Linked DNA regions of Homo sapiens: region 2 is linked to region 1. The links come from fine-mapping of genetic effects on gene expression. A gene starts in region 1. The other region holds a variant in brackets. All regions are shown on one strand. Distances are from middle to middle.

Region 1 (5,373 bases):
GTGACATTTGAGCAGATGCTTGAATTCAGTGAGAGAGGGGCCCCTTAAGTATGATGAAGAAGAGGCCTCAGGCAGAAGGCAGTGCAAGTGGAAAGCCCCTGAGTGGGAAGCACTCCTGGCACTTCCGAGGCGTAGCAAGGAGGCCAGTGGCTGTGGCAGATGGAGTAAGAAGAACAGGGGAGGAGGTGAGGCCACGGAGGTGATTGAGCTCCCAGAGACTGAGGCCCTTAGAGAGTGGTGGGCTGGGAAAAGACTTTGGACTCTGGTGGGGACTTTCCAGGAGGGGCCGGGCTGAGACCCATTGGGTCAGCATGTGCTGAGTGCCTGCCCTGGGGACCCTGGTCCCAGAGGGGCCAAACTGCTTCAGGGAGTTACCACTTGTAACAAGAGACAAGGCACTGCAGTTGGGGAGGCCATCGGGGAGCAGCCAGGAGCAGCAGGAACCCAGGGGAAGCTGCTCTGTGTCCCTGGGGAGCCTGCACTCCACTTCACCGGGGCGGTGATCATTGGCTGAACAGAAAGTAGTTGTGTTTAAGATCCATACATGATGAAGGGTAGGGATGGGGAGGAGGCCAGATAGAGGCCTGGAGGTTCTTACATCCTGAACACCCAAGCTGGCAGGGTCATCAGAGTCCTCTGGGCCAGCATTTTTCAAATCGGCTTCTGTGGAGCCCTGGGGAGATGACTTGGGGTCCTGTGAGAGACGGGGGATTCCGAGTGGGTGGGGTCCAGAACCCCCACCCCCACCCAACCATTGAACCGAAGCAACCTCCACTTTATCTCTGTTATGTATTGAGCTTCCCATAAGCTTTTGTATGAATAAGGAATCAGTGGCTAAAACAATGCCGACAGGCCATGGATCACATACTTTACAGATTTATTGAGGCATAAGGGACACGTATAATCAACTACACTTATTTCAAGGGTACAATTTGATAAGTTTGACATATGTATATACTTAAGAAGCCACCATCACCATTAAGAGCCTGAACATACCTTCACCCCAAAAAGTTTACTCCTGCCCCTTTGTGATTCTTCCCCCAACTCCTCTGCTCTCCCACCCCAAAATGTTAAAAAGCACTTTGGCCAGGTGGTGGCTCACGCCTGTAATCCCAGTACTTTGGGAGGCTGAGGCAGGAGGATAGCTTGAGGCCAGAAGTTCAAGACCGGCTTGGGCAATATGGCAAAATCTTGTCTCTACAAAAAGTACAAAAATCAGCTGGGCATAGTGGCATGCATTTGTGGTCCAAGCTACTCGGGAGGCTGAGGTGGGAGGATCACCTGAGCCCAGGAGGCAGAGGTTGCAGTGAGCCATGATCACACCACTGTGCTCCAGCCTGAGTGAAAGAGCAAGACCTTGTCTTAAAAAACAAAGCAAAAGGCCAGGCGCAGTGGCTCACGCCTGTAATCCCAGCACTTTGGGAGGCCGAGGTGGGCAGATCATGAGGTCAGTAGATCGAGACCATCCTGGCCAATATCGTAAACCCGCCTCTACTAAAATACAAAAAATTAGCCGGGCATGGTGGTGCCCACCTGTAGTCCCAGCTCCTCGGAAGGCTGAGGCAGGGGAATCGCTTGAACCCGGGAGGTAGAGGTTGCAGTGAGCCGAGATTGCGCCACTGCACTCCAGCCTGGCGAACACAGCGAGACTCCGTCTCAAAAAAAACAAACCCTCTGTGAACTCACAGTCACCCCCCAGTCCCACATATGCTGGAAAGGACCTGTCATACCTGAAGAGCCCCTAGATGGCGCAGAGGTGTCTGTGGTGGGGGACCTAGGTCCTGAAGCCACCTCACCCAGAGGCTTTCCCCCTGCCCATCCCCAGGTTTCTGGGAACGGATTCCCTAGGGAGGTGGTTCCTGGAAGCCTTTTCCCAGCCACGCCCCGTGGGCCCTAGGGGGCTGCTCTCTCCCTCCTGAGAATAGCCCTCAACACGTGGCAGATACCTTGTCTATGGCATAGGGGGAGGGGGAGGATCCATGCTTGGGAAGGTGGACCCCACCCCCAACGTCAGCTCTTGGCTTTGAATTCCAGCTCAGTCACTGAGAAGCTGAGGGCTCTGGGAGAAGGAGAAGGCCAGCAGCATCACCTCTCTGCCTCATCCCAAAATGGGGTCTCAACACCAATCCAGCTGGGAGGACTGCAGGAAGTGATGTTGGGGCCAGCTGGAAGATGGGAGTGCTCAATGCCTGTGCTGGCTGTACACCAGCCAGGGGTGCTGTGGGGTAGATGAGGCAGAATGGGGAGGGGGAGCCATTTGCAAGGGTCCTGAAAGCCAGGCTAGGGCTCTGACCCTGGCATTGCTACTTTCTTGCTGTGTGACCATGAATAAGAATTAATTGAGTTAATATAATCAAAGCGTTGAAAACAGTGTCTGGTGCATAGGAAATGTTACATTGAGCCAATGTGTCTGAACTCTCAGACTCAGTCTTGGTTTTTCCTTGTATAACATATGACCCCCTTGAGCTCTACTGGTCACTGATTCTCTGTCCCCACCCGCTTGCCATTTACCCCAGCATCTCCCTGCTCCCCAAATGGCAGACCATCAAACCTTAGAGTTATCAGCCACGGTCCTCTCCTCTCTAGGCCCACCAGGCTTGGGGTCCTGCAGCCTGCTGGGTGATTCCCCCTCCCCGCACTCCCCCAATCCTGCCGCTCTGTCATCTGCTGTACCACGTGCACAGTACCAGGGATCCAGAAGAGAAGGCTGGTTGCCAGGGCAACGGAAGATAAAGCCCTTGCTCTGCCAGGCTGCTGATTGGCTGAGACAGGTCCCACCTCCTGCCATCCTGAGAGTGGGGGCTAGGGGGAAGGGTCTCTGATGGGCAGGGAGAGATACCAGGGTGCTGAGCCAGTCCAGGACTGCCCCCTCCTGGCCCACTCAGAGCCCCTGGGTGTGAGAAGCTCGTCTCCCGTGGGTTGCATTGGCTCTGCCCTATCTCTGCCTCCAGCACCCAGGGCGGCCGCAGATGGCAGTGTCTCTGGGGACAGCAGCTGCGAATGAGTCCACGGGCCAATGCTGAGCTGCTCAGGCTGAGGCGGTGTGCTCAGCACAGAGCCCCCGGAACTGGCATCTGCAGGGCGTGAGGTGGGTCTTTGGGCACACGGAGGGCACCGAGTGGTGCCAATGGCTTGGGAGGTAGGGAGAGGGGCTCTGCAAACTCACACTGTCTCAGGCAGCACATTGGCTGAAATGAGGCTGGAAAATTCCATATAGATCATCTGGTAACCCCATCCCCACCCTGTCACCGTGCACAGGGGACCGTGAGGCCCAGAGAGGGTGAAGAAGGGGCCAAGATAACACAGGAGGCCAGTGAGTGTGTTGCTTTTCCACCTAGGTCAGTTCCCTGAGAAATCAGGAAGAGACCACGGGGTCCTCAGTCAGCCTCAGAATGCCTGGGATTTTGTGCACAGGGCTGGAGAGGTTGGGGGACCTTGATCTCTATTCCACATCCCCCAGCATTGCAGCTGAAATGGCTTCTGTTCTGCCCCAGCCCTCCATTCGCATGTTTAAGCTGGAAGGAAACTGGGGGCCTGGCTGGGCCTGGATAGGGGGCATGAGTCACCTTGGACACAGTTAAGTCACACAGGGAGCAGCCTCCCTGCCTGAGGTGCTCCTTCCCTACCTTCACCAACCCTGGCAGCACCAGACAATCCTGCACTCTCTCCAGCTCCCCAGAAAGGCAGCTGGTTAAAAGGTGCTGGGTCCTACACGCTCCCCTGCCCTGGCTGCACTAGTCACTTTGGATAATCAGTGCACTCTTCATTTTATTCCTTCACAAATAGGGCACTTTAATACAATGTCGGTGCCTCAGAACAGCCAGTGAGGACCTTTGGGGTAGGAGAGGGGCTCCGGATGGATGCAGGACCAGGAAACAGCATCTTTCCCTCCCCTGGGGCCACAGCTTCCCTCACAGGCCCACCTGGGAGTAGAGAGACAAGAGGAGCTGGAGTTTGGAGACGGAGGTCAGAAGAGTGAGGGCTTCTCTCCGACCTACCTGGAGTTCTTTCCATCCATCCCCCTGCTTTCCTCCCCAGAAGCAAGGTGGGCATCTGCTCATTTCATCCTGCTCAGGTGCCTTTCCCTCCCCTGGAGGACGCAAGCCTCAGGGCATCGCTGGGGTTTGGCGTCTAGCTCTGCCACTTTCCAGTTGGGTAAGCCAAGGCAAGTTAGTGAGCCTGTCTGGGCCTCAGTTTCTTCATCTGTAAAATGTGGATAGTGACACTTGCCCCATAGGCCTGTTGTGAAGTTTGTGGAGGAAGTCAAAACAGTGCTCTACCTGCCGGGCAGGCAGAGGTGGGCTCCTCACGTCACCCCTTTCTTATAACTAGGGAAGGTTGGGGGTGGGTTCAATAGGCCCTGCATCATCCTGTCCCTGGAGGAGATGATCTGTGATCTGTGATCTGTTTTTTTTTTTTTTTTTTTTTTTTTTTTGAGATGGAGTCTCGCTCTGTTGCCCAGGCTGGAGTGCAGTGGCGCCGTCTCGGCTCACTGCAAGCTCTGCCTCCGGGGTTCACGCCATTCTCCTGCCTCAGCCTCCCAAGTAGCTGGGACTACAGGCACCTGCCACCACGCCTGGCTAATTTTTTGTATTTTTAATAGAGACGGGGTTTCACCGTGTTAGCCAGGATGGTCTTGATCTCCTGATCAAGTCTCAAAAAAAAAAAAAAATAGAGAATGGTAACAAGTACCCAGGTGATAGAGCTTTTGTGTCTGCTGAATGAGTTAATTTATGTAAAATATTCAGAACCAGTGCCTGGCACATAACAAGTGCTACATAGTAAGTTTGTTCTTATTCTCTGAGCCTCAGTTTCCTTATCTGTAAAATGGGGATAGGAATAGCACCCACGTCCTAAGGGTACTTTGAATTTTTTTTTTTTTTTTTTTTTTGAGATGGAGTCTTGCTCTGTCACCCAGGCTGGAGTGCAGTGGCACCATCTCGGCTCACTGCAAACTCCGCCTCCCAGGCTCAAGCGATTTTCCTGCCTCAGCCTGTTGAGTAGCTGGGATTACAGGTGCCTGCCACCACCCCTGGCTAATTTTTGTACTTTTAGAAGAGACGGGGTTTCTCCATGTTGGCCAGGCTGGTCTTGAACTCCTGGCCTCAAGTGATCCACTGCCTTGGCCTCCCAAAATGCTGGAATTACAGGCGTGACCCACCACAGCCAGACAGTGATCTGGCTTTTGAAGTATGAGTAGGAATTTGCCAAGTGAACAAGAATGCATATGCAAAATGAAAGCATATGCAAAGATGAGGACTGCATAATGTGCAGGCGCATGTAGGTGACGGACAGGCAGTTCCATGTGACCGCACATAGTGTGCCATGTGAGGAGGGGGAGGTTGGCAGGGAGCAGATGGGCACCTTTGGGCC
Region 2 (5,373 bases), 300 kb after region 1:
GAGTTCAAGACCAGCCTGGACAACATGGCGAAACCCCATCTCTACAAAAAAAAATACCAAAATCAGCTGGGCATGGTGGTGCGCACCTGTAATCCTAGCTACTGGGGTGGTTGAGGCACAAGATTTGCTTCAGCCTGGGAGGCGGAGATTGCAGTGAGCCGTGATCATGCCACTGCACTCCAGCCTGGGCAACAGAGCCGGATCCTGTCTCAGAAGAGAAAAAGAAAAAGAAAAAAAATCTCTAAAAAGGTGTAACTGAGAAGAACCTAGGACATGCAAGAGCAAGTAATTCATTACATAGTCTTCCCCTTTAGTTATCTCCCTTACTCCTTTTTTTCTCTTTGTAGCTGGGACTACAGGCATGCACCACTATGCCCGGCTATTTTTAATTTTGTAGAGACGAGGTCTCACTATGCTGCCCAGGCTGGTCTCCAACACCTGGGTTCAAGTGATCCTCCCACCTAGCATCCCATTGTAGGCGTCAACTACTGTGTCCAGCCTCCTTTACTCCTGTCTCATTCCCATGGCTACTCATCTCGGCCCTGCAAAAACATGAAACGTGGAAGAACAAGATGCTATCTGGGAGGTTTCTAACACTAAATTAAATATTGTTTCTTTGAACACTGACCTACTTCTCCCTTAAGAACTGAGTCCTAGTACTAAAAACTAACCTTTCACCATCATCTTCCTAAAATATTGTGATACCTTCTGCAATGCCCTTTTAAGGGGGTCAAGACAATTCATGTATTCACCCTAAGACAGCTTCCTCCAGCGCGATGTCAACCTTTCTGCCCACCTGCTCAGGACCTCAATTTTGCTAAGATCACTAGCTCTTACTAAGCTTTGGTAGAATTAACCAATGTTTTCTAGCGCCTTTCCCTCTCTATGGCCAATTTTATTTTTAAATTTTATTTATGTATTTTTTGGAGAGAAGGTCTCACTACGTTGCCCAGACTGGTCTCCAACTCCTCGCCTCAAGCAATCCTCCCACCTCAGCCCCTGAATAGATGGAATTACAGGCATGAGCCACCACAGCCAGCTCTATGGTCAAATTTTTACAACGTATTATCAATGATCTAGTTGTCTGTTTCCCACACAATACTGTTGAACACCCTGAGGACAAGTACTAGGACTCATCCCCAAACTCTGAAAAATGGTGCTTCTCAGTCGTTTCCCCATTTGGTTTCTTTTCTTCTACTCTAAAATACTAGACCCAATTTGCTTAATTCTTTTTCTTTTTTCTTTTTTTTCTGAGATGGAGTCTCACTCTGTCACCCAGGCTGGAGTGCACTGGTGTGATCTTGGCTCACTGCAACCTCCACCTACCAGGTTCAAGTGATTCTCTTACCTCAGCCTCCGTGTAGCTGGCGTTACAGGCGCATGCCACCACGCCCAGCTAACTTTCGTATTTTTGGTAGAGACAGGGTTTCGCCATGTTGGCCAGGCTGGTCTTAAACTCTTTACCTCACCTCAAGTGACCCATCCGCCTCGGCCTCCCAAAGTGCTGGGATACAGGCATGAGTCACCAGGCCTGGCCTCAATATACTTAATTCTTTACCTACATTGTTTCTCCTGGCTTCAAAAAGCTTCCTGACCACCAAAACTAATCCTTGGAAAAGGACAAGTCTTCCCTACACCAAAACTAAATACCATTGTTTGCCTTTTTCTCGTACGTGTTTTTCTCTACCTCTAAAATGATTGCTTGTTCATGTGTTCAATGCACCGTAGAGGATACGGCAAGTGCCAATACCATAATCTTGCCCTCAGGGAGGACTGGGGAAGGAGGGCAAGAACACATTTAGAAAGGTATAATAGGCTGGGCACGGTGGCTCACGCCTGTAATCCCAGCATTTTGGGAGGCTGAGGCAGGCAGATCACGAGGTCAGGAGTTTGAGACCAGCCTGGCCAACATGGTGAAACGCCATCTCTACCAAAAATACAAAAATTAGCCAGGCGTGGTGGCGGGTGCCTGTAATCCCAGCTACTTGGGAGGCTGATGCAGGAGAACTGCTTGAACCTGGGAAGCAGGGGTTGCAGTGAGCCGAGATTGCGCCACTGCACTCCAGCCTGGGGGACAGAGCAAGACTCTGTCTCAAAAAATTAAAAAAAAAAAAAAAAGGAAAAAAGAAAGGTATAATAAAAAGCAAAAAGCAAAGATTAAAGGTGCACCAGAAAATTACAAACGTCATGAAGGAAACATCCAGTTAAGGGAATGTTAGATTTCATGGAGAAAAGTAACATTTGAGAAAGGCCTTGAAATATAACTATCTCAAAAGATGGAGAACAGGCTGCACGCGGTGGCTCATACCTGTGATCCCAGCACTTTGGGAGGCCGAGGCAGGTGGATCACCTGAGGTCAGGAGTTAGAGACCAGCCTGGTCAACATGGTGAAATCCCATCTCTACTAAAAATATAAGAATTTGCTTGGCGTGGTGGCAGGCGCCTGTAATCCCAGCTACTCAGGAGGCTGAGGCAGGAGAATGGCATGAACCCGGGAGGCGGAGCTTGCAGTGAGCCGAGATGGTGCCACTGCACTCCAGCCTGGGTGATAGAGCGAGACTCCATCT[C/CA]AAAAAAAAAAAAAAAAAAGATAAGATGGAGAACAGAAAAGAGGACACGGACCCAGACCTGGAAATAAAGGCACCTCTGGGGACACCGAGCTGCAGCAGAGGATACAACTGGGGAAACCAGGAGATGTGGTTAGAGAGGCAGGGCAGGGTCCTACCATGGAACCCTGAAGACCAAGGCAAGGTGTCTAAATTTAACTCAGTACACAAATGAAAAGGATACGACAAGAGCTACCTTTCAGAAGATTTTCTGGCAGTAGTTGGGAAGACACTAGACCAGGGACTGGGGAAGAAAGGTTACTATTCACGAAGCTACAAGAGCTCAGGCAGGTCCAGCACCATGCTCATTTAAACCACTACCAATCTCTACTTCCACAAGCCTTGACCTGTCTCCTACTTGACTGGTTCCTCCGCATCTCTTCAAGACACCTCTCTTCAATTTCCTCACTTAAAATCACTAACTAGAAAGAAAAAATTAATAGTCTGTTCTACAGAAGTGACTTAAAAAGTGAATATTGTAGACTGATACAACCTTCTGGTTCATAGCCTTTACAACAAATATGTTGGCTCCTACTGTGTGTCAGGCACTACTCTAGGAAACATGGATGCAGACAGGGATGGAGTAGGCAAAGTTTCCATCCCATGGTGCTTACATTTTGTGAAGGAAACAGATACAAGACAAGACTGTCAGATAATTGCTGTGAAGGGAGAACAGGGCTGAGGGAGAGAGCACGTACTCATGTGGGCGCTGCCTGGGCTCAGGTGGGCAGGGAAAGCCTGTCAGTGTGGGGAGAAAGCAGCAGCCACATGGTGTACATTTTTACAAAGTATACATTTTACACTAAAAGGGAGAAACAGGTTTTGAAGCCACATAGAGTTGCATGCCAGCCCTGGCTCTATCACTTGGTGGCTGAGGAACCTCTTCCAAATGAATGAATCTCTCTTCAGTCTGTTTCTTTATCCCCGTTTTACAGATAAAATACTGACTTTATTGGGTTATTCTGAGAGAATTAAATAATGAATATAAAACGTGCACTGTGCCTGGTACTGGGTAAGGGATCTGTAAATATTAACTACTGATTTACTACATCAGTGATTAAATATACATAGAAATTATTTTGCTGCTATATCTAAACACTAGATTTAGCAAAAACTGTCTGCAATCAGTACCAATCATAATCCCAAATGCCATAATCCTGAATGTTAAAATCCCAAAAGACTAAAGTCTAAAAATCCCTAATGTTTAAAACCACAACCCCAAAAGATTAAAATCCCAAATGATGAAATCCCAAAAGCCGAATTTTGGGGCAGGGAATTTGCATAGTTTTGGTTGTACACAATAGTTACACCATGCTAGGTGGAACTATGACCTTGCTATTGTCATTATCTGGAAATTAAGTATGGTTTAAGGAGATGCCTATGGGTACCAAGTTGCCGAGGATAGATTTGTGGACTTAATTTTAGCTATCAACTTGACAGGAACACCTAGAAACCTGGTAAAGCACTGTGTTGTGTGTGTGTCTGTGAGGATGTTTTCAGAGATTAGTGTGCGAGTCTGAGTAGGCAAGGAGAGCCCTCTATGTTGGTGGGTATCATCCAATCAGCCAGGAGCCCAGGGAGTACACAGAAGGTGAATTGCTGAGAGCTAGAACAGACTTTTCTTCTGCTGCCTTGGACATCAGAACTCCAGGCTTGCCAGCCTTTGGACTCCAGGACTTAACCAGTGGCCCCCTGAATTCTGAGGCTTTTTGACCTTGGACCGAGAGATAACACCATTAGCTTCCCTGGTTCTGAGGCCTTTGGATTTGGACTGAGGTATGCTACTGGCATCCCAGGGTCTCAAGCCTGCAGATGATCTGTCATGGGACTTCTCAGCCACCATTAATCATATGAGCCAATTCCCCTAATAAATTCCCTCATATCTATACACATATCCTATTGGTTCTGTCTCCCTAGGGAACCCTGACTAATGCAGATTTGGTGTTGGGGAAGCTGAGTATCAGTTCTTCTTACTTTATTCTTTACAGCACAATTGAAGAGATCTGTGAAACTCTTCCCTCGCAAAAAGGCTCTGATAAGTGTACACGGCTACTTAATGGCGAAAGATAAAAGTTTAAAAGCTAATTATCACTGGTGCTGCAAAAGCAGAAATTGCAACGGCCAGGCAATAATCAGGCTTTCAAATAGACAGTATATACTTACAAAATTTGTGGATCACAACCACTTTGCAAATAAAACTGGAGCAAGTGCTTTGAAGATCGCAGAAGTGAAAATACAGGCAAAAAATACAAGAAATCTCCCCTGCCAAATTATTCAATGGTGTATTATTTCTGCTCCTTCACACATAGTGCCAATTTGCTATGCTATATATTTTATCTTCACATCATTTCTAATACTGGAGATATAAATTGTGTAGAGACTTTTGGAGAGTTCTAATTAATTCTATGCATTTTTTTTTTGCAAACTGAACTCCACAGAAGTGCATTATCACAACACTGACTTCATGTGTAAGCTCTGGCTGTGTTCATCAAAACGTAGAAGCCAGGTGTGGTGGAGCACCTGTAGTCAGTCCCGGCTACTAGGGAGGCTGAGGTAGGAGGATCACTTGAGGCCAGGAGTTTGAGGCTGAAGTGCACTATGATCATGCCTGTGAATAGTCACTGCACTCCAGCATGGGCAACATAGCTAGAAGACTATGGTCTCTTTAAAAAAAGTTGAAACTGGCCAGGCACGGTGGCTCACATCTGTAATCCCAGCACTTGTGAGGCCAAGGCGGGCAGATCACCCAAGGTCAGGAGTTCGAGGCCAG

Which allele goes with the higher level. Alleles are on the strand shown, and positions count from the first base shown. SD is a standard deviation of normalised expression in the study named.
With allele CA in place of C in region 2, the expression in prefrontal cortex of the gene that starts at base 2,817 in region 1 is lower (moderate effect, 0.42 SD a copy in ROSMAP).

What was found. PIP is the estimated chance that this variant, and not a neighbour inherited with it, causes the effect. A credible set is the group of variants that fine-mapping cannot tell apart.
Region 2: its variant is the best candidate, but not a certain one, in a credible set for the expression of SMIM45 in prefrontal cortex (ROSMAP, PIP 0.85).

Annotation. Positions count from the first base shown.
Region 1 is chr22:41,949,334-41,954,706 of GRCh38, forward strand. SMIM45 (small integral membrane protein 45) reads left to right here and starts at 2,817. Exons shown (of 2, transcript NM_001395940.1): 1 at 2,817-3,088. RefSeq lists an enhancer at 1,646-2,273 and a silencer at 1,742-1,801.
Region 2 is chr22:42,244,872-42,250,244 of GRCh38, forward strand. All of the region lies in intron 1 of TCF20 (transcription factor 20), which reads right to left. Among named protein-coding and RNA genes, the nearest start is that of TCF20, 23 kb to the right of the region's middle. The variant C/CA (reference allele first, on the strand shown) is at 2,568.